Linked DNA regions of Homo sapiens: regions 2 and 3 are each linked to region 1. The links come from fine-mapping of genetic effects on gene expression. A gene starts in region 1. Each other region holds a variant in brackets. All regions are shown on one strand. Distances are between the middles of the regions. Region 1 holds the start of MAPRE3 (microtubule associated protein RP/EB family member 3). Region 2 overlaps MAPRE3 (microtubule associated protein RP/EB family member 3). Region 3 holds the start of CGREF1 (cell growth regulator with EF-hand domain 1).

Region 1 (9,976 bases):
TTTCCTTACATGAATCCCCCATCCCGGAAGTTGCTTCAGCAGGTCTGAGGACAGCCATAGGGATTTAAGCAGGATAGTTATGTGATAAGATTTATTTCTAGAAAGAGCCTTCTGACAATGGTGTAAAGAATGGATTGGAGATGAGAGAGGCTGAAGGCAGAGAGAGCAGGCGGGAAGCTCTGCAGTAACCCAGGCAAGAGATGGTAAAGGTGAAGCAGATAAAGAAGGGAAGAGTTTTGAGAGGCATTTAAGAAGTGGAGGCCAGGCACGGTGGCTCACGCCTGTAATCCTAGCACTTTGGGAGGCCAAGGTGGGTGGATCACTTGAGCTTGGGAGTTCTAGACCAGCTGGGAAACATGGTGAAACCCTGTCTCTACTAAAAACACAAAAATTAGCTGGCATGTGCCACATGCCTATGGTCTCAGCTATGTAGGAGGCTGAGGTGGGAGGATCACTGGAGCTCAGGAAGTCTAGGCTACAGTGAGCTATGATCACACCACTGCACTCCAGCCTGGGTGACAGAGCAAGACCCTGTCTCAAAGACAACAACAACAAGTGGAATTAGGGTCAGGCCCTGGGCTTACATCTGTAATCCCAACACTTTGGGAGGCCAAGGCTGGAGGATTGCTTGAGCCCAGGAGTTTGAGACCAGGCTGGGCAGCATAGCGAGACCTCATCTCTACAAAAAAAAAGAATCTAAAAGAAAATTAGCCAGGTGTGGTGGCACACCCCTGTGGTCCCAGCTACTTGGGAAGCTGAGGTGGGAGGATTGTTTGAGCCCAGCATGTCAAGGCTGTAGGTGAGCCGTGATCACGCCACTGTACTCCAGCTTGGGCAACAGAGCAAGACCCTGTCTTAAACAAACAAACAAGCTAAAGAAGTGGAATTAACAGTATTAGAAAACTGTCCTGGGGCTGGGTGTGGTGGGTGGCTCAAGCCATTAATCCCAGCACTTTGGGAGGCCGAGGCAGGTGGATCACATGAAGTCAGGAGTTTGAGACCAGCCTGGCCAACATGGCGAAATCCTGTCTCTACTAAAAATACAAAAATTAGCCAGGTGTGGTGGTGCATGCCTGTAGTTCCAGCTACTCGGGAGGCTGAGGCGTGAGAATCGTTTGAACTTGGGAGGTGGAAGTTGCAGTGAGCTGAGATCGTGCCACTGCACTCCAGCCTGGGTGACAGAGCAAGACTCTGGCCCAAAATAATAATAACAATAACAATAATAATAATTTGCAAATCATATATTATCTGATAAGGGATTTATATCCAGAATATATAGAGAAATCCTAAAACTCAACAACAATAAACAAACGGTCCGATTCAAAAATGGACAAAGGACTTGACTAGACATTCGTGCAAAGAAATTACACAAATGATCTATAAGCACTAAGACAACATAAAAAGTCGTCCAGCAAGCACCCTGCTGTTTAAGTTTCAGCCACCTTCTGACTCACACCTTGAGCTAGAACCATCCAACTGCGGGCTTTCTGAATTCCCATCCCACAGAAATAGAGATAACGAAATGGTTGTTGCTTTAAACCACTGAATTGGAGTGATTCATTTTGTAGCAATAGTTAATGGCACATAGTAAAATGTTAATATGTAGAGAATCTGGGTGAAGGGTATATAGGAACTCTTTGTAGAATGGTCCTCTACCTTGTGTATGACAAAGGGGTGGGGTTACAAGGATCATAGCTTCTTCTCAGGATTACTCAGGACAGTCTACACCACCCAAGTCTATACCTGTAACAATGAAGCTGAGCTGGAACTTCAGAATGGGAAAGCAAGATAAACTGAGCGTGCGACTTCCCTATTGCCTTGGTGACACCCAGATACCCTGCAGATGCAGTTAGAAACAGCTCCAGTTGTCCAACTCTGTGGCTAGAAAAAAGTGTAGCCTGGGTTTTTACTCTCCTAACCCCTTGATTTGTTTTGGGAATTATTGTCTACAAAGAGCTCTCTCCTTTCTGATAATTGCTTTAGGTGGAAGAAGAGAGGATATGCTGTGTCCCCTCTCTTTTCTTACTTACTCTATTTGTAACTTTCTTCTTTTTTCCCCAAGAAAATGGGCTTAGTTGGGGTGCTTTGGCACCAATAGTCCTGCGGCGGAATCTGTGGGAGCTAGACAGGGAGATTTGGAAGAGAATGCTAGGTTGTGAGCTCTTGCTTTTGAGTTGTTTGAAGAGAATGCTGCATCTCTGGCATGTCAACAAGCCCAGCAGAATCCAGTAACGTTCACCAAGAAGGCTTGATTAGAGCTGGTTAGGGGATGATCAGGATGGTTAGGTGTGAAGAGCTTACGCTGATTATGGAGGGTATGGGAGTCACGGGGTTGGTACCCAGTGAGGAAATTTACCTTAGTAGAAACATTTGGGATAGTGTAGAAGAGAGAAGAGCTAGAGGCGAGGATTCAGGAAATAGAGAATGCCAGAGTCTCAATTAACAGGATGGAAAGCTAAGGAGATGAAAGACTTATAATAGTAGCATAGTACTAAAAGACAAACTATGTGTAAAGGTATTAGAAATGGGGACTGGGACTCTGAGGCAGTTAGGCCAGAGAAAAGAAGAAGGAAAAGATTTGTCTTCATTTGATTCAATTACATAAGCATTTCTCAGAATCTGCTATGTGTCACATGCTGTGGTGGATGCTGAGGGAGCTGATGAAAAAGACAGAATTCCTGCCCACCAGGGTCACATAGTCTGGAGACACAGACACGTAAACAAATGACGATAGTGTAAGGTGTGTGTAAGAAAGGAGGAATGTACAGGGTTGGTACAAAGGTGACCTCAAGGCATCCATGGGAATCAGGGCTGAGGGAGGAAGAGCCAGAAGACATCAGCACAAAGAGAACCAAGATGCTGAAGTCACAGGGGGAAAGAACATACTGGAGCCCCGGGCAGAGCAGTGCTGGACAAGGACAGCAAGTGTGGAGAGGAAAGGGAGATCCAGAAGAACCGAGGAGATCCATAACAGCATGCTTGGAGGAGGAAATTCGGGAAAACGAATGGACATGTCAGAGGGAGCTAGTTATGAGGAAGTGGACTGCAAACCAGATAGTGAGCAAGATGAAGAAATGAGGTGTTTATCCTTGCAATGGGAGAGAGACAATAAGGCTGACAAAAACTCAAGTGGTCTGTGGATAGACGATTTCGTTAGCTCGATTTAAGGGTAAAGGGCACACTCTCTGGTAGGAGATGAAAGGGGATGTTTAAAACAGGTAGAAAAAAATTGGGCCGGGCGCGGTGTCTCACGCCTGTAATCCCACCACTTTGGGAAGCCGAGGCAGGTGGATCACCTGAGGTTAGGAGTTCGAGACCAGCCTGGCCGACATGATGAAACCCCTGTCTCTACTAATAATACAAAAACTTTGCCAGGCATTGTGGCGCACGCCTGTAATCCCAGCTACTCGGGAGGCTGAGGCAGGAGAATTGCTTGAACCCAGGAGGCAGAGGTTGCAGTGAGCCAAGATCGCGCCAGTGCACTCTAGCCTGGGCGACAAGAGTGAAACTCCGTCCCAAAAAAAAAGAAAAAAAAATGAATTTGGGAATTAGAGAAAAAGACTGTGATTGGAACCCACACACCAAGAGAGGAGATAAAACCCAGCCTTAGCTCTTCCATGTCGCTGAAAGAGAAGAAAACGTCTCTTTTTCCTTTTCCGTAGCCATAAAAGATGAAAATCCGTCATCCAGCTACTGAAATCAGGTGCACACGGTTGTTCCTCCTGTGATGAGACAGGGCGGAGGGATTGTTACCCTGTTGCCAGGGAAAAAGGAAGGGGCTGTTCCCAGTTGCTATGGTGACGAGGTAGGCGCGTTCCCTCGGTACCGCCGCACACGTCTGAAGCGGTCTCTTCTCCTCGTTGCTACGGCAACGCAGTGGGCCTGTTCCTGTCGCCCCCCGCCTCCCGCCGCAATCGCTAAGGCAAGGTGGAGGTAGGGGCTGTCCTCCCGCGGCTCAGTTGCCTTGGAGACGGCGGGTGCCCTGGCCCCGCCCCGCTCGGACTGACAGCGGCGGCCGCATCGCGCCTGCGCAGTGCCCTCGTCCCCCGCAGTCTCTGTGCGTTGAAGCCGGAGACCGCGGCGGCCTCAGCGAGGACCCTCCGCCCCGGAGCCGCCGGCCGGAGCCGCAGCCTCTGCCGCAGCGCCCCCGCCACCTGTCCCCTCCCCCTCCGCCTCCGCCGGAGCCGCCTCGTGCACTGTGAGTCCGGGCCGAGGCGACGGACGCCGTGGGGCTGAGTCAGCGGGAGGCCAGGGCCCGGGCTGGGGGAGGGGAACCGGGCTCCCCCCGCCCCTGCCTCCCCACCCGCACTCCCGCATCCCGACCGCGCCTTCCCCGCGCCGGTCAACCCCCTCCATCCCTGTCGCCGGGTTCCCTCCGGCCTTGGCGGCCCGGCCTCCCCAGCCACTCCCCCTCCCCTTCCCTCCCCTCCCCTTCCCTCCGTCTCTCCGGGTCCACCTTGAGGCTCCTTCCCCACTAGACGTGGCCACCGCACCTCTGCCCTGGGCTGATATTTTCTCCAAACTACCTCCCGTCCGCCCTTATCCCTTCTCCCTCCTCCTCACTCCTCCTAGGCCTGACATCTCCCGGCCTCTCTGGATCTCCCCAGTGATGTGCCAGAAAAAGAGTGACAGGAGAGCGAGGGGAGACTTGGGGGAGGGGGAACATCGGGCCAGGCCCAGCCTGGGGGCCTCGGGTTTCTTCCCCACACGCTCCTGCCTGGCTGGTTTGGGGAAGCAGGTCTGGACAGTTCTCACTGGCTGCTCAGAGCTTGCAGGGCTTTCCGAATAGATTTGGCTGGGAAGGGTTCAGCCCCATCGTGATCATCTAGCGTTTAATGAACGCGGCTAGTGCCTGGTGGCCTTCTAGTGGGCTGAGCTACTGCCCGGCCGGTGTTGCGGAGCGGGGAGTAGAAGTAGTGGAGGGAAGGGAGAAGAGGTTGCGTTTGGGAGCTCCAAGTTCCTGCGCTTCCGGTGTGGTGTTGTGAATAAGCATCTTGCGGAACTCTTTAAAATGCTTTTTTTTTTTTTTAAATCGCACTACAACCCTGGTATAATGTGAGGTTTGGAAAAAGGCCTGATACCATCCATAGGAAGTGCTTACTGTTTATATATGAAGGGGCTGTGGCAGGACTTGATCTTGGATTCCTGTAAATTAACTAATTGGATAGTAGTGAGTTTTTAACATAACGTGTGCAGAGTTGAGAGGAAGGAGAAAAATCGAAGCTTCTCCATGGTGTAGGTGTGAGGCCTGTACACTGTGCCTCCTCCAGCTGTGTGTCTTTGTGGGGCTGTCACCAGATAGGGGTTCTAGCATATTTGGACAATTCCCTGGGTTATGTTTGCTACCCCTCCACCTGCCCATCTTGCAGTCCCTGTTCTTGGAATAGAAGAGGGTCCCAAACAGTTTTCTTTTTCCAGAAGAACTGAGTTGAAGTCAGAGTTAGTGCCCAGAGCCAGAAACTCTTAATAAACATGTCTCAACTTGAGGGCCCCTAACTACTATATGACCTCATTGTCAGCTTCTTTTTTATTTGGCTTCCAAATTTCAGTGTGCTTTTAGAAAGCACGTGTAAATATAAGCCAGATCTACCGCACAAGAGGCTTTGGGATTTTTACTCCAGATGGTAAAAGGAACGCATGGTCCATTTCTAAAAATCATGGTGAAGGAGCCACTCATTTGGAGTTTCCGGGGTTGCAAACAATGAGAAATAACTATTTCACTCTTTACTTTGCTCAATCATGGCCTATTGGCAGCCTCCTCATAGCCACTCCCTGCCCCCATGCCCATCAGATTAGTTTACAGTAGCCAAGACGGCTGTCGCCCTAGTTTTAAACATAGAGATGAAGTTCAGGAAAACTATAGCCCCCATCCAGCAGGGCAGTTTCTTCTGTTTCGAATGCCAGACTGGGGTTTGGTGGGATGCACCTGCCTGTGGTGCAGTGGGAACTGTGGGGCCTGAGAGTGGCATTCCTTCTGTGTGGTCCTGTGTCACATAGCTCACCAAAATACCCGAGCAGGGCAGGAGCAGACAGCTGTACTGGAGAGCTGCTCCTCCTGGGCTGAGTGTATTTTGGGAATCAGCGATATTACTGGGGTGGAGGGTTGTGAATTAAGGAGGAAGAAAATGTGTCAAGGCTAGATAGATCAGGAGGGTGTAAGTAAAATGTTCCTTTCCAGTTTGCTATGGGATAGTACATTTTCAGAGGATCAGAGTAGTTTTTATATGGATTAATTTGCCTTTGAAATCCATACCAGTGTTTTATGAGATAATGATGGAATGCCTTTTAAACTGCTACTATGAGGAAACAGGACTAATACTTGTCTTATACATTGCCTATCCAGCTGTTGCTGAATGTAATTGTTAAGATCAAGGAGAGGGACATGATTTGAACCAAGTTAGACCTAAATCTATGTAATGGTATTGAGGTTTTGTAGGACTGTATTCTTGATTCTAAGACACACCAGCAATTTACCAATAGCTTTTAGGTAAAATAATCTAATGCTACCAGATCAAAATATATATGCTGATTCCAAGGTGCATCCTCATTTTAGAAACATTAAAACCCTCGGGAAATGGCAAGACTTGAGGGAGGGATTTGTGAATCTTGGAACTGAGAAAGAATGCTATTGATAGTATTCCTGTGTGATGATGCCGTTTCTGACCTACCGTCCTGAGAGTGCATGCATTGTGAAGCTGAGTTTCTTCTAGTCCTTCCTGCACGCCAGCACACATTGTGGGGTTGTATTTGTAAGATGACTGGCTGGAGTTAGGCATAGTAGGAGGCTATTGAACGGAGGAAAGTTCCCATATGAGAATCCAACCCAGGGTCTTAATGTGGTACTCTCCAGAAACTGAGCCAACTAACTGGCAGCAAACGTCTTATGAGCTATTCCTGAATTTAGCCGAGTAACATTTGTCAGAAGCCGAACAGAAAATATAGTTTTTTTTTTTTTTTTTTTGAGACGGAGTCTCGCTCTGTCGCCCAGGCCGGACTGCGGACTGCAGTGGCGCAATCTCGGCTCACTGCAAGCTCCGCTTCCCGGGGTTCACGCCATTCTCCTGCCTCAGCCTCCCGAGTAGCTGGGACTACAGGCGCCCGCCACCGCGCCCGGCTAATTTTTTGTATTTTTAGTAGAGACGGGGTTTCACCTTGTTAGCCAGGATGGTCTCCATCTCCTGACCTCATGATCCACCCGCCTCGGCCTCCCAAAGTGCTGGGACTACAGGCGTGAGCCACCGCGCCTGGCCAGAAAATATAGTTTTTTAAAACAGAATGCATCTGCCCTGATTTGCTTACAGATACATTTGTAAAGGTCCCAAGGCACATGTCTCCCTCGCTTAGGATGTTAGCACTGGAGGTGACCCCAGATGGTATAGTTTAATGCCCTCATTTCTAAAGTTGACACAAGACACCAAGAGTTAAATGACTTACCTAAGGTCACCCAACCCATGCAGAACGTATGTAAAAACACTTTGTAAACTGTGTACACTAGGCAGATGAATGTTGGTGGTTATTAGTGGCTGAGTCAGGATTAGATCTCCAGATTTCCAGACTAGAGTTATTCTTCAACACCACATTGCCTCATCCCTCATAATGTTCCAAAGGGTTTTAATAAAAATAATTTAGTAGTCCGTAATTAGCCCTGTAGGCAAGGGCTTGTTTTGTCATCTGAGATGCTGCACAGCCAGGCAAAATTTTGTGTCAAACTGTCTAACTAAATATTTATTCTTGCCACTTTAAAAATAATATTTTTTATCACACATTCTGACTTCAGGAAGGTCTTTCTTTTTTTAATTTGCATCAACTAACAGAAAAGCAAATGTGAAGTTGGGTATTTGAAGTCTTTTCTACTTCTTATCTGTGAGACTGCCGCATTCCAGAAAGCAAGGTGGAGAGGCAGATGGGGCTGAGAGGAGGAGCGTGCACATTGGGCAGCTGCGGGCTTATCTTCCACCTCTCAGAATGGAACCTTTTGTAGTTTCTGGGAGCCATAAGGACTTCTAAACCCTCTCCTTGGGAAGCGCGGAGGCAGCCTGACCTCTGGAAGCAGGCAGACTTGAGTTCAGATCCCCATCCAGCCATCTCCTGGCTGTGTGGCCTTGGGTGAGTTATGTTACCTCTGAATGCCAGTTTCCTCATTTATAACCCTGGAATAATAACTATCTGTTTTACAGGGTTGTTGTGAAGATTAAATGAAAGGGAGTATGTAGAGTGCTTGCTTCATAAGAAATAGCAATGATTATTTTATATTGACTAAAGCATAAAATAGCAAATAATGGTTTCAAAATTGTTTCGTGATTTAGGTCCATCTTGGACTCTCAGTTTTGTAGCCCCCATCTCTCAGCACCCCTCTCGGTATTTGACACGAACAGAGAAAAGGTTTGTACCGGGAAGACCCGGCACTTGCATTATTATTTCAACTGCCAAAACCGGAGTATATGAAATGTATCTTTGCTCCATGTATTCAGCCAACCTGAAAGACTGGCAGGACAGGAGCATTTGACTTTAGGAGGCACAGATGTGGTGTGCTTGGGTGTGTGGTGGGGGTGGCTAGTTCTCCAGCAGGGAGGCCAGTCTGGGGAGTGGTCTTCATTTGAAATAGAAAAGCTGCTGAGCTCTTGCTTGTGAGGGACACACATGTGGTCTTTATTGACTTCCTCAACTGGTAGAGGCATAGATTTCATCGGTGACTTTGCTAAAATCAGCTTCTGCATCCGTGAGATCCAGGGGGCAAGGGAAAGGAGCTATTCATCTTAAGAGGGAAACCTTGCCAGTGAGCAGAGGTAAAGGGAGGTCATTTTGGATGGAGAGAATTACAGACTGGCTCAAGGCAGAAACTACTGAGTAATTAAAGAACCAGGGCAAGCTGTTCAGGTGCAAGAGCAAAAGTGAATTTAAATTCCTAGATAAATTTCAGTAGGGAAGGAAATACCCATGTATAGACATCTAAAGATTGAAAAGAAACGCAATAATGTTTACCTCTGGGAGGTGGGATTTGGGTGTGGGGAAGGGAAAAGGAGACTCAAAGGGGAACTTTTACTTTATATGTTTTTGTATTTGACTTGTTATAAGAAGCATGTATGCTTTAGTCATTTAATGAAGACCAAATAGAATGGGTAGTGATTGTTGTTCAGTAAATACATTTTGGTACAAAAGAAGCAGCTGCCTTTACTTGGAGCCTCCCATGCCTGGGGCAAATAGGGTTTGACAGCTTCAAGCAGGCCCAGGCAGTTTGCACCAAATCAAGCTCTTAAGTGAGGGCAGGACCCTCCAAAGTGGCTGCTTCCCGGTCAGCCCAGGGTACTTAACTGACCACCTACCCCATCAACTCTTCCTAGTCTTTTCACTCCCCTCTTGAGAATAGTCCCCTCCATCTGTTGACCAGCTAAAATAATCATAATTATTCTAATAAGCTAATTTTCAGCTATTGATGAAAATGGCATCTGACTATATGACCTTCATGAAAAATTCCTGCCTCTTAGTTAATGTCAAGAGGGCTTGAAGTTTAAAGGGACCCAAGCTGAAATGCTGGCACACTGTGTAGCTAAGTTCTAGGTCAGACCTGGCTGGTACAGCACATCTTTCACATAATGACTGATTAACTGCTTCTGGTAGGAATTACTGGTAAACTCTGATAAAATCCTTAAGGATTGTTCAGCTTTTAATTTTGTCGTAAGTTGGCCAGCTGTATTTTCTAGCCAGATGTCATGTTTATTATAGAAAGATGACACACCTATCATTTGGACATGTGCTTTGGGTTGCTTACCCAGGAGTTAGGATGGGTTATGCTGAGTAATTCACATTCCATCACCCAGTCTTCCCTTTGGCCAAGAGTACAATTTCGTGTGACAGTTAGCCAAGTTTCGTGAAGCATGCTGTGGCCACGGATGGTTTTTCTTGTGCACAGAGTTGACTGGCCAATACTAGCATAAGCCTAGATCTTGCACTCACTAGCACCATGCCCTACCAGCTT
Region 2 (9,976 bases), 56 kb after region 1:
ACTGTCTGGAGCTGAAGTCAAGAAATGGAAGCAGGGAAAGAGAAGAGCAGGAGAGGCACCATGAAGGACTGCAGGGAAAGGAGGAGCGGGGAGCTGAGAGCCAGGATGGCAGCAGAGCCACAGGTCTGACCACACCTCTCTGGGTCCAGCTCTCAGCTCTTCTGGTGGTGCAACCTTGGGCAAGTCACTATACTGCCCTAGGCCTCAGTTTTCTCATCCATAAGATGGAGATAGTATCACCAACTAACTAGAGTTCCTGTTGGGATTGCCCTACCTACATGCAGTGTTTGGTGTGGTGCTGGTTCATAATACGCATCAATAAATAGTCATTGCTTTTATTCTTGGAAAGCTGGGGGGATTCTGGCCATGTCTATCCTGAAAGTAGGACTGGTCCCTGGCCCAGAACAAGGAGAGAGAAGAGGAGACGGGGTTTGGGGAAGTGAGAGAGAGCAGCTCACAGAAGGAGAGCAGCAAGACCCCTCAGCCAGCCATCCTTCTCCACAGGGGCAGCCTACTGCCAGTTCATGGACATGCTCTTCCCCGGCTGTGTGCACTTGAGGAAAGTGAAGTTCCAGGCCAAACTAGAGCACGAATACATCCACAACTTCAAGGTGCTGCAAGCAGCTTTCAAGAAGATGGGTGTTGACAAAGTAGGTGCCTGCGCTCTGGGGGGCCCTGAGGAGCAGTGTGACCCTGGGGAAGAAGAGGACCCACCAGCCCAGGCAACTGGGGCTGCTGGGGTCATTCCGGTGCTCGTGCCTCCCTCCACCTCCCGACTCTCCAGAGGGAATTTTCCCCCTGCTCAAGGCACAATGGAAAAGCCCACAACACTTGCCATGCCATCATGACAACATTCCTTTCCCTTCCTCCTCTCTGGACCCTGCCCACCCCAACACTGAGCTCTGTGCACCGCTCCTGTGAAGTTCCACCTCTCTCTGTCTCTGTAGGGCCCAAGAAAGTGTCTCTGCTCACTCTACTGCCTCGGTGGCTGCAGACCCCCAGCCCACACGCAGGCAGTAGAGCCAAGGGACGCCTCCCCACACAGTTCTTCCACACGGTGCCTGTAGAGAAGGGATGCCTCTGGATCTGACACTAGGGCCTACCAGCCTACCTGTCTGCTCTGGTGCCGTGGGAGGGGGGCAAGTGGAGAAGGTGGAGGACGCTGCAGCCCAGGGGCTGGCTTTCCTGAGAGCAGTGGCCCTCAGCAGAGGAAGGCGGTCCTACAGCAGCAGGTGGCTAAAGTACTCTGCTTATGTGGTCTATTTCAGATCATTCCTGTAGAGAAATTAGTGAAAGGAAAATTCCAAGATAATTTTGAGTTTATTCAGTGGTTTAAGAAATTCTTTGACGCAAACTATGATGGAAAGGATTACAACCCTCTGCTGGCGCGGCAGGGCCAGGACGTAGCGCCACCTCCTAACCCAGGTGATCAGATCTTCAACAAATCCAAGAAACTCATTGGCACAGCAGGTAACGTGCCCGAGCCGGGGGAGGGAGCGTGGGGGGCCGGGCCGGCAGGCCTCTATAGCCAGGAGTGCCCCCTGGGCCACGGCCCGGCCCTGCCAGCCTGGAGGAGACTTGTTATCACGGAGTTCGGATGACGCCGCCTGCTGGCCAGTTAGACCGGGGGAGTGAAAGTAGTGGGTGAGAGAGCTCCACAAATTGGTCTAAGAGGAGAGCCACCAGCACCAGCCATGGTGGCAACTGGGGTAGGAGGCCCAAGGCACTTTGTTTCATAGCACGAGCTAACTTGTTTGCCTCAAGATGATGGGGCAGCAAGGTGGCTTGGTTTCTCCATCCAGGTGCATCCAGACCAAGAGCCTGGTGCCAGCACCACAGCCCCTTCTTGCCCCCTGCCCCCTGGATGGCCAGGGGCAGGAGTTGCCAAGCTGGATCACACCTTTCCCCACTCTAAAGGCCCAATAGTCCTAAGTCCTCAAAAGATGAGTCTCTAGAAACGAGGCTTTGTCTGGGTCCTGGAGGGGAAGGGAGAAAAGCAATAGGGCCTTTGGGAAGCAGCAGCGTTGGGAGGGGAAGGGAGAGGAGCAGCCCCAGCCCGCGTCGGACCCCGTCATAGCAGAGCCACCTCCTCTGTCTGCACTGCTGTTCTGCCTGGGCCTGCCCCACTCGCCCGCCTGCTTGCTTTGCACTAGAAGCAGCCCGCTCTGTCTAGGGAGGTGCAGTCGCTAGTGAGCAAGTCGCCACGGCATGCTGGCTGCGCTGGGGAGGAGCTGGGGTCCCTGATTTGGCCACCACTGTGCAGATACCTGGTCCAGCCCAGCAGAGGGCAAAAGAGCCCATCCTGACACAGGGCCCCTGGAGGGGCAGCCACCCAGGGACAATGGCTTTGGGCTGGGGCTTCTGTTAGGAAAGACCCTGTGCCAGCTGCCTTTCCTCTAGCTATGAGTACGAGAGGGTCCCGCACCCTTCCAACTCTACTTCCCCAAATTTGCGTCCTAATTTCTCTCCTCTATCCCTCAGGCCAGCTCTCTCCCTGCCCCAACACCTCACACCTTGTTTAGTTCCCTATAGTTTCTGCTCTCCCGGGCTCGCCAAAGGGCTGCCCAGCTGCTGGAGTGTCCATGTGGCCAAGACTCGGGGCCTAGCTGTAGATGCCCTTCCTGGGGTGGGGGCAGGGGGGTGAGAGTGCCTGCCTGTCGCATGGGCCTGCCCCCGCAGTCCTCACACCAGGCTGTCTCCTGCCACGTGCGCTGTGGGCTCACGTGGACTTACCTGACTCTTTTCCTCTGGGCAGTTCCACAGAGGACGTCCCCCACAGGCCCAAAAAACATGCAGACCTCTGGCCGGCTGAGCAATGTGGCCCCCCCCTGCATTCTCCGGAAGAATCCTCCATCAGCCCGAAATGGCGGCCATGAGACTGATGCCCAAATTCTTGAACTCAACCAACAGGTGAGTGGGATGGGTAAGGGTAGCTGAGATAGCCCTGTCACCAAAGCCAGGCCCTTGGGGTGTCTGCAGGGACGAGAGGAGGGCAGGCAGGGGA[A/G]CCTGAGGTGGGGACCTCTGGCTTGAACATCACTTTGTCCCCAAGCAGCTGGTGGACTTGAAGCTGACAGTGGATGGGCTGGAGAAGGAACGTGACTTCTACTTCAGCAAACTTCGTGACATCGAGCTCATCTGCCAGGAGCATGAAAGTGAAAACAGCCCTGTTATCTCAGGCATCATTGGCATCCTCTATGCCACAGAGGTGAGCACTCCCAGGCCCATTGGGCCCTCCCCAGTCTGGCCTGGCCCTAAGACCAGAAGCGCGATAGGGCCAGAAGGGACCGTGGAGAACATTTACTGATGAGAGAGAGGTGAAGTCACTAGCCCAGGGTCACCCATTAGCAGGGCTCCTGGACTCCTGACCCCTTGCTCTTCAGCTACTTACAGAACCTGAGAAGCCCTGCCTGGCCTGCCTGGCCCACCACTTTCCTCTCTCTCCCACCCTCCAGGAAGGATTCGCACCCCCTGAGGACGATGAGATTGAAGAGCATCAACAAGAAGACCAGGACGAGTACTGAGGGCGGCCGCAGCCCTGGCTGACTGCACAGCTTCCCCGTGCCTCCCTCCCTGCTCCACTCCCACATTATAGTCCTTTCCTAACACGGTCGGCCGGGTGCTTTGTGTCAGTGCTGCAGCACTGGGGAGCCAGGCGAGGGGGGCTTGGGGGCATGGGGCCGGAAAGCAGGCAGAAGCCCGTCCTGGGTGGTGCTGGCCCAGTTGGTGGGACCCCTGTCCACACCCACCCTATTTATTTCCGTTGTCTCTCTGCTGTGTCGCCCAACACTTCCCAGGGTGCTGCTGCCACCCGCCCCAGCCAGCCACCTGCTCCTGACAGCCAGCAGCTGTGTATTTGACAAAGTCATTGGTATATTTTTACTTACTGGATTCTCCTTGCACTTTACCTGTTCTTTTCCAGAGCTGACAGCACGGGCTCCGGCGCAGTGTGCCTGGCTTGGCTTCCCTTCCCCATGGCTGGGGGCTGGGGTAGGACTCACCCATTCTAATTTATTTTGTCTTTTGGCTTCTCAGTAGCTAAGGGGAAGGCTGATGTCAGGAGAGGGAGAGGGGGCTGAGGAGGTAGTGCTGTAGGCCCAGGGGGTCAGGGAAAGGGAGGGGGGCATGTGAGGGATGGAAATGACCTCCTGGCACCAGGCTCACCCACCCAAGGCCCCCTGCCCCAGCACTGAATCCCAGCGCTGCCCTGAGGCCCCCAGCCACTCCCTCCAGCAGCCTGGTTCACCACACAAACTCTGCCTGGACCCCATTGTCTGTCTGCTTCCCACCTGCCCTCCCCACCCCCTGCCCCTCGGGCACCAGCCTGCATATGTGTTCACTTTTATTTAAATAAACTTGTGTGGTAAAAGTACATGCCATGTGTCCCTCAACTGAGCCACAGTCCAGGTCCAGTGCTTTCCACCTCCCATGCACCGCTCTCTCCGGAGGTGATAGCGGCAGCACAGCCTCACTGTCACCCTCCCACAGGCCTGGAAACCACCACCAGCTCTGGGCTCAGAGCCCAGCTCCAGCCTAGCCCCAATGCCCAACACTGGTGGTAGGGCTCTGAGGGCAGGTAGGGGCCCCAACCCCCCGTCACTGAGGAGGAACTAGGTCTGGGCCCGTGGCCATGACAAGGGACAGCCGGTGAAGCGGCTGTGGGGCACCGTGGTGGCCTGGCCAAGAGGTGCTTCGTTTCAGTCTCCTTTGGGTCAGGGGGACTGCATGTCATCCCCCACCTGTTGTCAAAGCTCATACAACTCATCATAGTGATTCAGCTGGGGACAAGGGCTCACGTGACAGAGAGAGCTGGGATGGCCACAAAGAGCAAGGAGTTCTGAGTGCTGAAGCCCGGGACAGCAACATCCAAGGGGTTCCTTCTGTAGAGCAGGCTCCAGTGGGAACAGGGAATCAGGAACCCTTCCACATCACCTGCACAGCCCCAGTCCTGGCATGTGCCTAACAAAAGGCCATACTAACCGATGTCCCAGAAGCCCAGCAGAGACCAAGAGTGCAGAAATGAATGTGAGAGCCTTGGGGTCATCTAGACCAGCCCCCGGTTTACTGATGAGGGGTCAGAGGCCCACGTGCATGACTCAATCACCGTGGCTGAAACCTGGACTAGAACTCACACTTCTTGACTTGAGGTTCAGGGCTCATCCCCAAAGACCACTGAGGTTCCCCCAGCTGCAGGACAGCGCTGGTTTCCTCACCACCCTGAGTATGGTCAACATGCAGATGGGGCCGTGTCTCTTCTGTGGCCCCACCCCATGGCCCCTTTTGAGACCACCACCATTTCTCTCATGACACCAGGTTCAAGCCTTAAATAAGCAATTCATATCTGTTTATTCCTCAATCACCTCCACCACCCCTTTTGACTCCCCCCCCCCATACATAGACACTTCTGCCTTATTCTATCTCTGTTCTCCTCCAGCAAGTTCCTTGCCTGCTTTTACTTATCGTGATGATTTTAATTCCCTTGCCTAATTTTTAAAGGCTTTTCCCCATGATTACAGGTAGATACCATGAAAGGATAGGCCAGGCCGAGACCTCACCCTGAAGGTAAAGTGGGTGTGGGAGGCAGAACAGTGCCTCCCCCAATGTCCACATCACAATCCCCAGAAGCTGTGAATATGTGGGTTACATGGCAAAAGGGAATTAAGCTGCCTGTGGGCCAGGTGCGGTGGCTCACGCCTGTAATCCCAGCACTTTTGGAGGCCAAAGCGGGAGGATCACTTGAGCCCAGGAGTTCAAGACTTCCCTGAGCAACATAGGGAAACACCATCTCTACAAAAAATAAAATTTGAAGGGCGTTGTGGCACGTGCCTGTAGTCCCAGCTACTCAGGAGGCTGAAGCAGAAGGATCACTTGAGCCCAGTTGTTGTTAAGGCTGCAGTGAGCCATGATTGCTCCACTGTACCCCAGCCTGGGCAACAGACTGAAACCCTGTCTCAAAAAAAAAAAAAAAAGAAAAAAAAGTTGCAGATGGAATTCAGGAAGTTAATCTGCTGACCTTAAAATAGGGAGAGTGTCCTGGTTTATCCAGGTGGGTCCAATGTCATCGCAAACGTTTATAAGAGTGGAAGCAGGAGGCAGAAAGGGTCAGAGTGGGCAGGGTGTGGTGGCTCATGTCTGTAATCCCACCATTTTGGGAGGCCAAGGCAGGAGGATCACTTGAGCGCAGGAGTTGGAGACTAGCCTGGACAACAGCGAGACCCCATCTTTACAAAAAATAGAAAAATTAGCCGAGCATGGTACTACATGCCTGTAGTCCCAGCTACTTGGGAGGCTGAGATGGAAGGATCATTTGAGCCCTGGAGGTCAAGGGTGCAGTGAGCCATAATCATGTCACTGCACTTCAGCCTGGGCAACAGAGCAAGATCCTGTCTCAGAAAAATAAAAGAAGAGGTCAAAGTGAAACAATGTGAGAGTGACTCACCCACTGTTGTTGGCTTTGAAGACAGAAGGGAGCCATGAACTCAGGAATGCAGGTGGCCTCTAGAAGCTGGGCAAGGCAAGGAAATGGATGCTCCCCCAAAGCCTCCAGAAAGGAACCCAGCCCTGCTGACACCTCGATTCTAGCCCAGGGAGACCTGAGTTAGACTCCTGCCCTCCAGAACTGGAAGATAACGCCCTTGTTTTAAGCCACTAAGTTTGTGGCAATTTGTTTTAGCAGCAATAGAAACGTAGTACAGTGGGTAAAACAGTGCTTCGGTGAGCTCACCCTTCTGCTTGCTCCCACACTAGACACCCATGTCCTCCTTGACCCAACATCTTTTGGGTCTTCAAACCCCACGGCGGGGCCTACCCAAGCCCACCTCCGTGGCTAGTGTCTAAGGCTGCTCTTCAAACACCCAGAACTTAAGGATGTAAAGCCACTCCCTTCTCCCCACCTCTTCCTGGTACCTCATACTAAGTGCTTCTTTCCTCTGGAACACTAAGATGGTGAACTGTAATTTTCTGTTTATACATTTGTCCCCCACACAGACTTCAAGTTCCTTACAAGCAAGTGAGCTATATCTTCCAGCTCCACCTAGCACAGGGCCTGACACAGAGAAGGTGCTTAGAAAAGGTTGCTGGATAAGTAAATGCATGATTTATATGTCCTAGATGCCAAGTTAGAACTGGTAACTTACTAGACTATTCCAATGAAAGATAGAGTCCCTCTCCCACCCTTCTGTGTGTCTCCACCATGGGGCAGCCCCCTCATTTGCCTCAATGGAAAGCCAGTTCTGTTTCTCTTCCAAAAACATGGTCTCTTCTGTGATCATACATGTGACACAGGAGGGGTCAAACAAAGAGAAGATATTGTTGTTGGTCTCCTGAGTACACCTAAACCAATGATCTGCAAAATGAATTGATTAATGATCAGTTCAAATATGGTCCTTGGCAAAGGCACTGTATCTCAGAGCTACCGGATGCAAAGTCAGCCATGGTCAGGCCTAAGGGGGCTGGAGGACAGGTAGAAGGAGGCAGCAAGATATGCTCATCTCCCACCCCCTGCCTTCCCCTACCAACACTTCACACAGCCACATTTACCCTTCCAAAAGAGTGGATTATGCCACCCTCTCACTGGTCTCCCAGGGCCTGAAGGATAAAGTCCAGATTTGGCAGGCAAGTTCCTTGGCATATGGGCTCAGATCCCTTTCCAAACTCATAAGAGGCTATTGTTGCATTGCTATAAAGAAACATCTAGACTGGGTAATTTATAAGAAAAGAAGTTTAATTGGCTCACAGTTCTGCAGACTGTATAGGAAGCATAATGCTGACATCTGCTTCTAGGGAAGCCTCAGGAAGCTTACAATCATGGCGGAAGGCAAAGGGGGAGCAGGCACATCACATGGTAAAAGCAGGAGCGAGCAAGCGAGCGAGAGAGAGAGGTGGTGGGGAGGTGCCACACACTTTTAAATGACCAGATCTCATGAGAACTGGGATCCACCATGAGGGATCCACCACCATGATCCAAACACTTCCCACCAGGCCCAACTGCCAGCGCTGGGGATTACAATTCAACATGAGACTTGGGCAGGGACAAAAATCCAAACTATATCAAACCTCATCACCTCCAAAGTCCCATCAAGCACTGTCCCATTGAACTGCTTCCAGTTTACCACCCTCTAGGCCTTTGTTTTACATCAACAGATCCACACAACTGGCATTTTCTCTCCACCCACCCTAACCCTCAGCCAGTGAACATTCAATTTTGTTTTTTGTTGTTGTTGTTGTTTTGGGTTTTTTGAGACGGAGTTTAGCTCTTGTTGCCCAGGTTGGAGTGCAGTGGCACAATCTCGGCTCACTGCAACCTCCGCCTCCAAGGTTCAAGCGATTCTCCTGCCTCAGCCTCCCAAGTAGCTGAGATTATAGGCCTGCGCCATCATACCTGGCTACTTTTTTGTATTTAGTAGAGATGGGGTTTCACCATGTTGGCCTGACTGGTTTCGAACTCCTGACCTCAGGTGATACCCACCTCGGCCTCCCGAAGTGCTGGGATTACAGGCGTGAGCCACGGCGCCCGGGGAACCAATGAAAATGCTATTTCTCAGAACCTATCTCAGCTGCCGTCTCCTTCGGGAAGCTAAACTCCTTCCTAAGGAATGCATCGCTCCCTCAGCTGTTCATCCTGTAGGAATTTGGACTCTCTTAGTTCTTATCATAATACCTCAGTATGGCAGGTAGGAATCTCATCCTCACACACAGTTGTACATGAAATAGCACATTTCCTTAATTGTGATAAGTCACTTTGATTTTATCTTCCCTCATTCTCCTCTGCTGGCATGCTTCAAGGTTCTGAAGGCTCCCAGGATACTAACACCCTCCACGTGGATGTCTGAGCAGGAACCTGTCTGCAGATGCCTCAAGTCTGGGGCTCTCCATCGCTTCCCTGACACATCTGGAACTTGGGATTGACTCTTATGGTGGGAGGCAGAGCCTGTTCTTTCTCATTGCCTGGAAGGGGAAACCCGGCCCTGGCTGTCCCAGACCCCCAGACTTTTCTCAGCCTCCCATGAGAAGAACTCAGAGGCCAGGAGCGGTGGCTCACTCCTGTAATCCCAGCACTTTGGGAGGCTGAAGAGGGTGGATCACTGAGCCCAGGAGTTTGAGATCAGCCTGGGCAACACAGCAAAACCCAGTCTCTACAAAAAATACCAAAGATTAGCCGGGGGTGGTGGTGGGTCAGGTGATCCGTGGTGGGGGATCACCTGAGCCCTAGAAGTTGAGGCTGCAGTGAGTCGTGATCGCGCCACTGAACTCCAGCCTGGGCGACAAAGCAAGATCCTGTCTCAAAAAAAAAAAAAAAAATTATTCTCCATTCTCCACCTCCTACCCCAGCTCCCCAACACTCTGCCCTTTCCTCAAGCCCCCATCCTCTTCCTTGTTCTTTGGCAATAGATTTGTATAGCCCATTAAACCCGAGGTTTAATCACTAGCAACAGTAAAGCCAGCACTTTCCTAGAAGGAAGGAAGCATTTAATCTTCAATCTCTCCCTAGATATGAGGAGCACTACTTCCCTTCCATCCTTCCAGCTCTACGAGAAAGGAAAGAAAAACAGTGGCCGGGCGCCGTGGCTCACGCCTGTAATCCCAGCACTTTGGGAGGCTGAGGGGTGGGGGTGGGGTGGGTCACTTTAGGTCAGGAGTTCGAGACCAGCCTAGCCAACATGGCGAAACCCCGTCTCTACTAAAAATACAAAAATTAGCTGGGCTTGGCAGCGGGAGCCTGTAGTCCCTGCTACTCGGGACGCTGAGGCACGAGAGTCGCTTGAACCTGGGTGGCGGAAGTTACAGTGAGCTGAGATCGCGCTACTGCACTCCAGTCTGGGCGACAGAGCGCGGCCCTGGCAATCAATCAATCAATTGATCAATAAAGGAAAGAAAAACAGAAACAGTTCTACCAAGTCTCTCAATGCCGTGGCCTTCACATCGACGCTCAATGAACGTTCTCAGAAGGGAATCTCCTCTCCTCCCGGCCTCTTCGCCT
Region 3 (9,976 bases), 150 kb after region 1:
GTTTGTTACACTGCCATAGTAATTGGAAAACCAACCATGTAAGGGCTGGCTTCATGGGTGTGCGTCCTGTGAAGTCACAAGTTCCCCGCTCTCAGAGGGGCCCTGTGCTTAGGCTAATGCTCTGTTGTCACTATCTTGAAACTCTCAATCATTTTTGCACCGAGCCCTGCAAATTATGCACCTGGTCCTGAGTCCTACCCCGTGAATGACTATCACTCTCCTCTTCTTGGTCCTATGTACCCCTCATATATTTAACTCTTCAGTATGTTTAATGGACAGAAAACAGAGCTTTGGAAACAGCCAGACCTACTTTTAAACCCAAGCTCCACCACTGAGTGTCCCTGTGACCTTGGGTAAATTAATTTTTCTCACTAAACTTCAGTTACCTTATCCACATACTGGAGATAATATTTACCTCACAGGGTTACAGTGAACATTAAATGAATAATGAATTACTTCTGGCACAAACTAATATACAAGCCTTTTAGTGTTATCCCTGTCTCTGGTATTTTCTCCACTTAAAGAACCCTCCACACCCACATCAGATAAATCATCCTTTGCTAGAATTCCACTGCTCTAGAACCTTCAGTGGCTCCCTATTTCGATTACAGTCCAGAATCTTCACCTGGGCATTCAAGGCCTTCTACAATCAGATATCAAGTTACTGTTGACTCATCTTCCAGTGCTGTATTATGATAGCACACTGCTTCAAACCAAGGAGTTATTGGAGTCTCCTAAAATACTTTCCACTTTCACTTTTCAGTGCTTTTGCCCAACCTGTTCCATCCTCAATCTGGAATGTCCTGGGCCCTCCTGACAACCTTAGCATTCGGTTATAGCCCACCTCAAAAATGCAAGTGATTGGGCTGAGTACAATGGCTCACGCCTGTAATCCCAGTACTTCGCAGGCCAAGGCAAAAGGATTGCTTGAAGCCAGGAGTTCGAGACCAGCCTGGGCAGCAAAATGAGACCCCCCCCATCTCTAAAAAAAACAAACAAAAATTGTTTTTAATTAGACAGCATGGTGGCTCAAATCTATGGTCCCAGCTACTTGAGAGGCTGATGCAGGAGGATCACTTCAGCCCAGGAGTTGAAGGCTGCAGTGAGCTATAATTACACCACTGCACTCCAGCCTGGATGACAGCAAGATGCCACCAAAAAAAAAAAAAAAAACAAAGGCCGGGCATGGTGGCTTACACCTGTAATCCCAGCACTTTAGGAGGCCAAGGTGGAAGGATCACCTGAGGTCAGGAGTTTGAGACCAGCCTGGCCAACATGGTGAAACCCCATCTCTACTAAAAATATAAAAATTAGCCAGGCACAGTGGCACGTGCCTGTAATCCCAGCTACTTCGGAGGCTGAGACACGAGAATTGCTTGAACCCAGGAGGCAGAGGTTGCAATGAGCCAAGATTGTGCCATTGCACTCCAGCTGGGGTCACAGAGCAAGACTGTCTCAAAAAAAGAGAGAGAAAAAAAAAAGTAAATGATGTGGACTTTCAGTATAATTTTTTTTTTTTTGAGATAGAGTCTCACTCTGCTGCCCAGGCTGGAGTGCAATGGCGCGATCTCAGCTCACCACAACCTCCACCTCCCGAGTTCAAGCGATTCTCCTGCCTCAGCCTCCCGAGTAGCTGGGATTACAGGCATGTGCCACCATGACCTGCTAATTTTGTATTTTTAGTAGAGATGGGGTTTCGGCATCTTGGCCAGGCTGGTCTTGAACTCCTGACCTCAGGTGATCTGCCCACCTTGGCCTCCCAAAGTGCTGGGATTACAGGGATGAGCCACCAGGCCAGGCCTATTCTCTCTCTCTCTCTCTCTCTCTCTCTCTCTCTCTCTCTCTCTCTCTCTCTCTTTTTTTGAGACAGAGTCTCGCTCTGTCACCCAGGCTGGAGTGCAGTGGCGCAAAATCTACTCACCATAGTCTCCACTTCCCAGGCTCAAGCGATTCTCCTGCCTCAGCCTCCCAAGTAGCTGGGATTACAGGTGTGCACCACTACACCTGGCTAATTTTTGTATTTTTAGTAGAGACGGGGTTTCACCACGTTGGACAGGCTGTTCTCGAACCCCTGATCAAGTGATCTACCCACCTTGGCCTCCCAAAGTGCTGGGATTACAGGCATGAGCCACTGCACCTGGCCAATATTCTAAGTAATGCTTCCAACTGTGACATTTTAGTGCAAGTAACCCACCTCAGTGGTTTAAGGAAAGGCTAAGACACCTCATGTAATGTGTAATGAGGTTAGTGCGATGTGTTGACACTTAGACATTTCTAAACATTAACAAAAGCTTTTGTGAGAGAAATAAAATAGTTATTGAACCACTGCCTGTCCAATAAAAATGTCCCTAACCATTTTCTATAACTATAATGTGCATGAACATAATTACCCTAATAAACACATGAAAGCCACCATAACTGTTAACAGTTGCCATGTAATTTAATAAAGTTATGTCACACACGTGCACTCACACATTCACAATGACCCTCCGGCCCCAGTGTTCTTCAAGCCTTTGCACCAGTGCATGGGAGGAGAGCACGCTCTACAGGTTAGACTTCTGATCAAATCCTGCCTCTGATACTACTCACTGTGGGACCTAGGCAGGTGTCTTAACCTCTCTGAGCCCTGGGATCTGAATTTTTTTTTTTTTTTTTTTTTGAGGCGGAGTCTCGCTCTGTCGCCCAGGCTGGAGTGCAATGGCACGATCTCGGCTCACAGCAAGCTCCGCCTCCCGGGTTCACGCCATTCTCCATTCTCCTGCCTCAGCCTCCCGAGTATCTGGGACTACAGGCGCCTGCCACCACGCCTGGCTAAATTTTTTTTGTATTTTTAGCAGAGACGGGGTTTCACCGTGTTAACCAGGATGGTATCGATTTCCTGACTTCGTGTTCCGCCCGTCTCGGCCTCCCAAAGTGCTGGGATTACAGGCGTGAGCCACTGCTCCTGGTCGGGATCTGCATTTTAAAAATGAGGATAACGGTATCTGTCTCCTAAAGGTTTGGGGAGGCTGCAATGAGAAAACTTAGGGTAGGTGCCTGGCACCAAGCAGGTGCTGCTTGGGTATTTCAGAGCCTCTGGGCTGTGGCAGGGGCCTTGCAGGGTTATCCTGGGTAACTTCCCATCCAAAGCAAAAATTTCTTCCTCAGCAACCCTGTCAAATGGCCTCTGCTTGAATCATTCCAGGACAGGAACCTAGCACCTCACAGGCCGGCAGTTCCATCTCCTGTAGAGTCGAACTGTTGGGAAGCTAAAATTTTGAGTAGAATCCTCTCCCTTAATTCTTAATTTATCCCTCTGGTGCCCTTGTGCCTCCCAGCACCCATCCCCCAAGAAAGGAGACAGCGGCTACAGGGCTAGAGGAGCCCACACCCGGGAGCTGGTCCCTCGGCCACCTGCAAGCGGACGACAGCCTCGGGCCCTCCCCAGCGCTCCATTTCTTCCCCGTCGGATGAGGGGGAAAGCTCCCGCCAGCTGCCCCTCCCCCAGGACTGCTGGAACACGGAATGCGGGGCTGGGGGAAGCGCCTGGGGAACTGCGAAGCCCCAAATTCACACCAAGGAGCCTCAGGCTCGCTCTCCAGTCCCTTCCTCCACCTGCCCTCAGGGTACACAGGGGCAAGGGCCACTGCTCCCGCCGCGTCTGAGCCGCAGGGGATGCAGAGGGACTGCGCTCTCGGGATCTGGACCAGAGGCTGGAGGCCACCTACCCCGCGCGGCCCTGGCTGGCTGACGGCGATGGGCTCGGGTCTCCGGCCGGCCGGGGCGGGGTGTCACCCACCTGCTGCGGCGCCGCGCGGCTCTGGGGGTCCAGCTCCGTGGGCGCTCCTGGCTGCTGCGCCGCCCGCGCCTCGCCTCCCGCCGCCAGCCTCCCCCGGGCCGCTCCACGTGGCCGCTCCACGTCGCCCTCCCGGCTGGAGCCGCCGCCCTGGCCGGGCAGAGTCCGGAGCCAGTGCCAGCCGCCGCCCCGCCCGCCGGACCTGGCCCTTCGCAGCTCCACCAGCGCCCCCGCTGCGCCCGCGGCCGGAGGGGCTGCGCGCGCCCGTGTGAGTGTGCGCGTGTGTGCGTGCGTGAGTGCGCATGTGCGCGTGTGCGAGTCCGCGTGTGCTCGTGAGTGCGCTCGTGTGCTTGTGCGGGTGTGCACATGCGTGTGACATTGTGAGCGTGAGTGTGAGCATGTGTAAGGATGCACGTGTGTGAGCGTGCATGTGTGCGCGGATGTGTGCGTGTGCCTGTATGCACACATGTGAGTACAGAGAGACCAAGAGACAGTGAGGCCAGTGTGCATCAGAAGTATGTTTAACTGTGCTCATGCTTTGGTTGCCACTTTCTCTGCCTGAGGGACCCAGATGTATGTGACAAAATGGAACCTAACTTACTGTTAGCATGTGCGGTTGTGACTGGCATGTGTGGCTCTGTGTATGAGGAATTTGTGACACGGTAGGGGGTATTTTGTGTGACTGTGCATCCGTGTGATAGTGTGGGCTTCAGGGGCCGGGCGTGGTGGCTCACACCTGTAATCCCACCACTTTGGGAGGCCAAGGCGGGTGGATCACGAGGTCAGGAGATGGAGACCATCCTGGTTAACACAGTGAAACCCCGTCTCTACTGAAAATACAAAAACATTAGCC[G/A]GGCATGGTGACGGGCGCCTGTAGTGTCAGCTACTCGGGAGGCTGAGGCAGGAGGATGGCATGAACCTGGGTGGTGGAGCTTGCAGTGAGCCGAGATCACGCCACTGCACTCCAGCCTGGGTGACAAAGCAAGACTGAGACTCCGTCTCAATAAATAAATAAATAAATAAAAAATAAATGATAGTGTGGGCTTCAGGGTATGGCCAATGTGTGACTGACTGCCCAGGGGTGTGGCGGTGCAGAGTGTTAGAGGCATATGTATTGGGGTGTCAGGGTGAACTCTTCCTGAGTTGTTTGTGACACTCCATCACAGCGACACTGTCATCACAGCGACAAGCCCACTCTCATCCTGTCCTCCTCCCAGTGATGAACACTGCTTGTCACTGCCTTTTTAGATCACGGATTCTGCTGGTTTCGGCAATACCTCTCCTACCTCTGGTCATTTCAAAAAGGTCTCCATTTTCTTCACCGTCAGAGTTCCTCAGGGCCCTCTCCTCACTTTCCATCTGCTCATGTGCTCATCTGCTCACCTAGCTCCCATCACTGTTATGCATTGACTCGTGTCCTTCACAAAGTTATATGTTGAAGTCTTAACCTCCAATACCTCAGACTGTGACCTTATTTGGAAATAGGGTCATTGCAGATGTAATCCATTAAGATGAGGTCATACTGGAGTAGGGTGGGCCCCTAATCAATATGACTGGTGTTCATATCAAAAGAGGAAATGTGGACACAGACACACACATAGGAAGAACATTGCTATGGCCTGAATATCCCACCAAATTCATGTGCTGAAACTTAGTCCCCATTGTGGTGATATTAAGAGGAGGAAGCCAGGCACAGTGGCTCACACCTGTAATCCCAGCACTTTGGGAGGCCGAAGTGTGAGGATCTCTTGAGGCCAGGAGTTTTCGACCAGTCTGGGCAACATAGTGAGACCGTGTCTCTACAATAAATAAATAAATAAAAATTAGGCATGGTGGTGCACGCCTGTAGTCCCAGCTATTTGGGAGGCTGAGGCAGGCAGATCCCTTGAGTCCAGGAATTTGAGGTTACAGTGAGCTGTGATCCTGCCACTGCACTCCAACCTTGGTGACAGAGCGACATCCTGCCTCTGAAAAAAACCAAAAAGGAGTAGGGCCTTTTGGGACATGATGAAACCATGAGGGCTCTCCCCTCATGAAGGGATTAATGACCTTATGAAAGAGGTTTCTGAGAGAGTTCACCCCTCTTGCTCTCTTGCCTTTCTGTCCCTTCCATCACATGAGGAAACCCAGACGCACCATCTCTGAGGAATGGACCTTCACAGACACCGAACCTGCCAGTGCCTGGATCTTGGACTTCCCAGTCTCCAGAACTGTGAGGAATAAATTTCTGTTGTTTGTAAATTACTCAGTCTGTGGGATTTTGTTATAGCAGCACAAACTCACTAAGATGTTTGTGAAGATGAAGACAGAGATCAGGGTGATGCTTCTACCAGTCAGGGAGTGCCAAAGATTTCCAGCAAAATGCCAGAAGCCAGGGGAGAGGCATGGAATAGATTATTCCTCACGGTTCCCAGAATGAACCCACCCTACTGATATTTCAGTCTTGACTTCTAGTCTCCAGAAGTGTGAGACAATAAATCTCTGTTGTTTAAGACAGTCCCCAACCTTTTTGGCACCAGGGACCAGTTTCAGAGAAGACAATCTTTTTTTTTTTTTCTTTTTTTTTTCTTTTTTTGTATTTTTTTAGTAGGGACGAGGTTTCACCATGTTGGCCAGCCTGGTCTCGAACTCCTGACCTCAGGTGATCCGCCTGCCTTGAACTCTCAAAGCATTGGGCGTTACAGGCGTGAGCCACGTGCCCAGCCTCAGAGAAGACAATCTTTCCACAGATCAGAAGGGTTGGGGGTGAGGGTGATGGTTTTGGGATGAAACTTCCACCTCAGATCAACAGGCATTAGATTCTAATAAGGAGCACGCAACCTAGATCCTTCTTGTGTGCAGTTCACATAGGGTTTGCGCTCCTATGAGAATCTAATTCCACTGCTGATCTCAGGCAGTAATGCTTGCTCATCCTGCTCACCTTCTGCTATGCCACCTGGTTCCTACCAGGTCATGGACCAGTACCAATTTGCAGCCCAGGGGGTTGGGGACCCCTGGTTTAAGACACCCAGTTTGTAGTGCTTTCTTACAGCAAACTGCCAACTAATACACCACCTAAATGCTGATGATTGCCAATTCTCCACCTCCAATCTCTAAGCCCCAGGCCACTTCAGGCATTGAATATCCTACTAATTTGTGCCTGAGTTTTAATTTATAAAGGTGGCTGAGTGAGGACATGAAGAGGTCACTGCTATTGAAAGAAAAGCTTAATGTTATTTGCAGTTCCCCTAGAAACAAAAGGCACGGTCACAGGGGGAAGTGCCAGTGTCACTCAGGAGGCAGAAAGAAGCGAAGGGAAGGTACAGGCCTTTATTGGGGTTTACTTCTCCCAGTAAGGCAGGAGAAGCAGTTTGGGACTGGCTAGTTTGAATAATTCCAGAGTGCTCTGGGGCACAGGGACAGGTCCTGGTTACCTGGTCCTGGGTTGATTTAGGGCAGGGGAGATACTGGCTTGGAATGTGAAAGTTAGAGAAAGGAAGTGCTCAGAGTGTGAGCTCTGGATTGTAGGGGAGATGTAAACAACCTTGGCCATTAGGTTGGCCCTGTGATTTATGGATGCCAAATAGACAAATACAGAACCTAAGGAAACACAGTTAAAACACCTACCAGCACCCCAACTTCTACATGTCTGTGTCTAAATGCATCATCTTCCTCTTCAAACCTTCCTCTCCTCTGTTTCCCTGTCCCAGGGATGGACACTTTATATCTGTGCAGTCAGAAACCTGGAGGTCATCCATGTTCCTCCTTCTTCCCCTGCCTCCAATCTACTACCAGGTCCTATCAATTCTGCCACTGATCTTGAAGATCTTCACTCCTCTCCTGGGTATCCTCCAGTCCGGGCATCTTTTGAGCCTGGCGTTCTGTTAGCAGCCTCCCAGTGGCCTCTCTGCTTCTACTTTCCTCCTCCTCCAATCTATTCTCCAAGCAACTGAATGATTCTCCTAAAACATAACTCATGTCACCCTTCCCTTCTTAAAACCCCTGGATGGCTTTCCTCTGACCCTAGGATAAACTGCAGCAATTATGTGGTCCTTGACCACCCACATGCTCCAGCCACACCAACTTTCTTTGTTCCCTTAAGACATCCTTCACCTCCAGGCTTTTGCCTTTGCTGCCCCCTCTGCTAGAACACCCTCGCGTGAAGTCCGGGCACCTCCGCAGTGCTCCCATGGCAGCTGGTACTTCTCTTGTGTGGACCATGTTAAGCCCTGATGACTTGTGGACCTCCTAGAAGCTTTACGGTGTATTGATACCTAGGCTCCTCTCCAGACTAACTGTATCGGGGGTAGGGCCTGGGCACTGGTAGTTTTAAAAATCCTAGATGATTCCGATCTGCAGTCAAGGTTGAAAGCCACTACTCTTAGTAGACGACCTCCTATATTTCAATGAAGACACGGACAGTAACATGGGGGGTCTGTATCAAGTGCCTGGTACAGGGCGGGTGGTGAGCAAATTATCTACTGTACGAGGACTGTGTGGCAGGGACTGTATGAGACAATGCAGAGTGACACTGCAGGAAGGTGCATGTGTTGCAATGCCACCACTGAGCAGCTGAAAGCTTTGTGACAGTGTGGGGTGTCACAGTCGGACAGTGACTGGTGAGGGTCACTGTGAATGGCTGTAGTGTGTGACAGAGCAGAATGTCACTGCAGGAGTAGCTGTGTCCTGTGCGTGACTGACTGCGAGCGCCTAAGGGACTCTGGCCAGGCTGCTGGACTCGGGGCGTCGCCGGGGAAGAGTTTAAGGGAGCTGGAGATGCCCCGCACCAAGATGGCAGCTGGGGGAGGCCGCTTGTCTCGGGCTGCACAGCCAAGAACCGCGGAGGGGAAGAAGGCAGGGGAGGGCGGGAGGCCATTCGCAGGTCACTCGGGTTAGATCCGCGCGAGGCACTAGGCGACCAGCCACCCAGCCCCGCGACCAACTAGCGCCGCCTCTCGCCGCCCATCCCGGGGCACCGGCGGTGGGCGGGGCCAGCAGCGCAAACTGCCTGCAGCGGGGACCGGACCTGCACAGGCCGCCTATGGCGGGCGGCGGGTGGGACCGCGAGTTACAGCCGGCCAACTGGGGCCAGCCAGGAGCCTGAGGGTCGGAAGCCCCCAACACAAGATGCTGAGCTCCTTCCTGAGCCCCCAGAATGGCACCTGGGCAGACACCTTCTCTCTGCTCTTGGCTCTTGCCGTTGCCCTCTACTTGGGCTACTACTGGGCATGTGTGCTTCAGGTGGGTGCGGGTCCACCGCTCTGGCCAGCGGGTTTGGGTGTAGGGGGCAGCTTCCAGACACGGGCTTGGGCCCTTGGTGGGAACTGGGATGGTTGGGCTTCCCCACAGGTGAAATTTGCTACCACCGAATGGAGAGTCGGCTCTGCCTCTCTAGTGCCTCTGCATCCCATGTGATCCCCATGCCAGCTGGGCCTTTTGGGTACCGGAGGGTGCTGCTCCCTATAATGTGGACAAGCATTTGGGGAAAGGTGGGGTGGAAGGCATCCTGAGGTATCAGAGATGTGCACACTTTGCGTTCCTTTTTAGGTGGTTTAGCTGAGTCTTTCAGCTGCACTGAAGGAAGGAACCAGAGGTCTGTGGGTCATGGCTAACTCCCAATACCACCCACCCCCCAAATAGCTTAGTAGGACCTCCCTTCCCTTAAGGGCTGGCTGAGGTCAGAACTGGCCTAGCTCAGAACTGATGGATGACCCCAACTGTCCTTGCTCATTCAGCCGTTTTATGTTCCAGGCTCTCCATATAGTGAGTGTGATGAGAAAGTTTGAAGAGGTTGATTTTGATGAATTTGGAGACTTTTCTCACTGAAATTTAGATATATACATAATTTACATATCCAGGAAAAGCCAAATCTCTTCATCTTCATTAAACTCTGTTCTAGGTAGCTGAGTCTAACAAGACACCTACTGGTTCGAGTCCTTTAAAAAGGTCTATAGGAGACTTTAGTGTTACCTAGACTTTTCCATATTTTCAGAGCTTTCTACATTAGCATATATTGTTTACTAAATGTCTTCCTTAGGGCCGGGTGTGGTGGCTCACGCCTGTAATCCCAACACTTTGGGAGGCAGAGGCGGGAGGATCGCCTGAGGTCGGGAGTTCGAGAGCAGCCTGACCAACATGAAGAAACCCCATCTCTACTAAAAATACAAAAATTAGCCAGGCATGGTGGCACATGCCTATAATCCCAGCTACTCGGGAGCCTGA

What was found. PIP is the estimated chance that this variant, and not a neighbour inherited with it, causes the effect.
Region 2: its variant is fine-mapped to the expression of MAPRE3 in whole blood (TOPMed, PIP above 0.99).
Region 3: its variant is fine-mapped to the expression of MAPRE3 in whole blood (INTERVAL, PIP 0.94).

Annotation. Positions count from the first base shown.
Region 1 is chr2:26,966,605-26,976,580 of GRCh38, forward strand. MAPRE3 (microtubule associated protein RP/EB family member 3) reads left to right here and starts at 4,033. Exons shown (of 7, transcript NM_012326.4): 1 at 4,033-4,198. RefSeq lists a silencer at 3,918-4,247.
Region 2 is chr2:27,022,828-27,032,803 of GRCh38, forward strand. It overlaps MAPRE3 (microtubule associated protein RP/EB family member 3), which reads left to right. Exons shown (of 7, transcript NM_012326.4): 3 at 505-650; 4 at 1,269-1,470; 5 at 2,756-2,910; 6 at 3,053-3,205; 7 at 3,453-4,392. The coding sequence ends at 3,521. Among named protein-coding and RNA genes, the nearest start is that of TMEM214, 5.1 kb to the right of the region's middle. RefSeq lists enhancers at 1,366-2,156, 9,761-9,976. The variant A/G (reference allele first, on the strand shown) is at 3,005.
Region 3 is chr2:27,115,068-27,125,043 of GRCh38, forward strand. It overlaps CGREF1 (cell growth regulator with EF-hand domain 1), which reads right to left and starts at 4,061. Exons shown (of 6, transcript NM_006569.6): 1 at 3,779-4,061. It overlaps ABHD1 (abhydrolase domain containing 1), which reads left to right and starts at 8,748. Exons shown (of 9, transcript NM_032604.4): 1 at 8,748-8,995. The coding sequence starts at 8,882. LOC124907744 (a long non-coding RNA gene) reads left to right here. Exons shown (of 2, transcript XR_007086252.1): 2 at 1-2,418. RefSeq lists enhancers at 2,993-3,493, 3,494-3,994 and silencers at 8,593-8,672, 8,693-8,832. The variant G/A (reference allele first, on the strand shown) is at 4,629.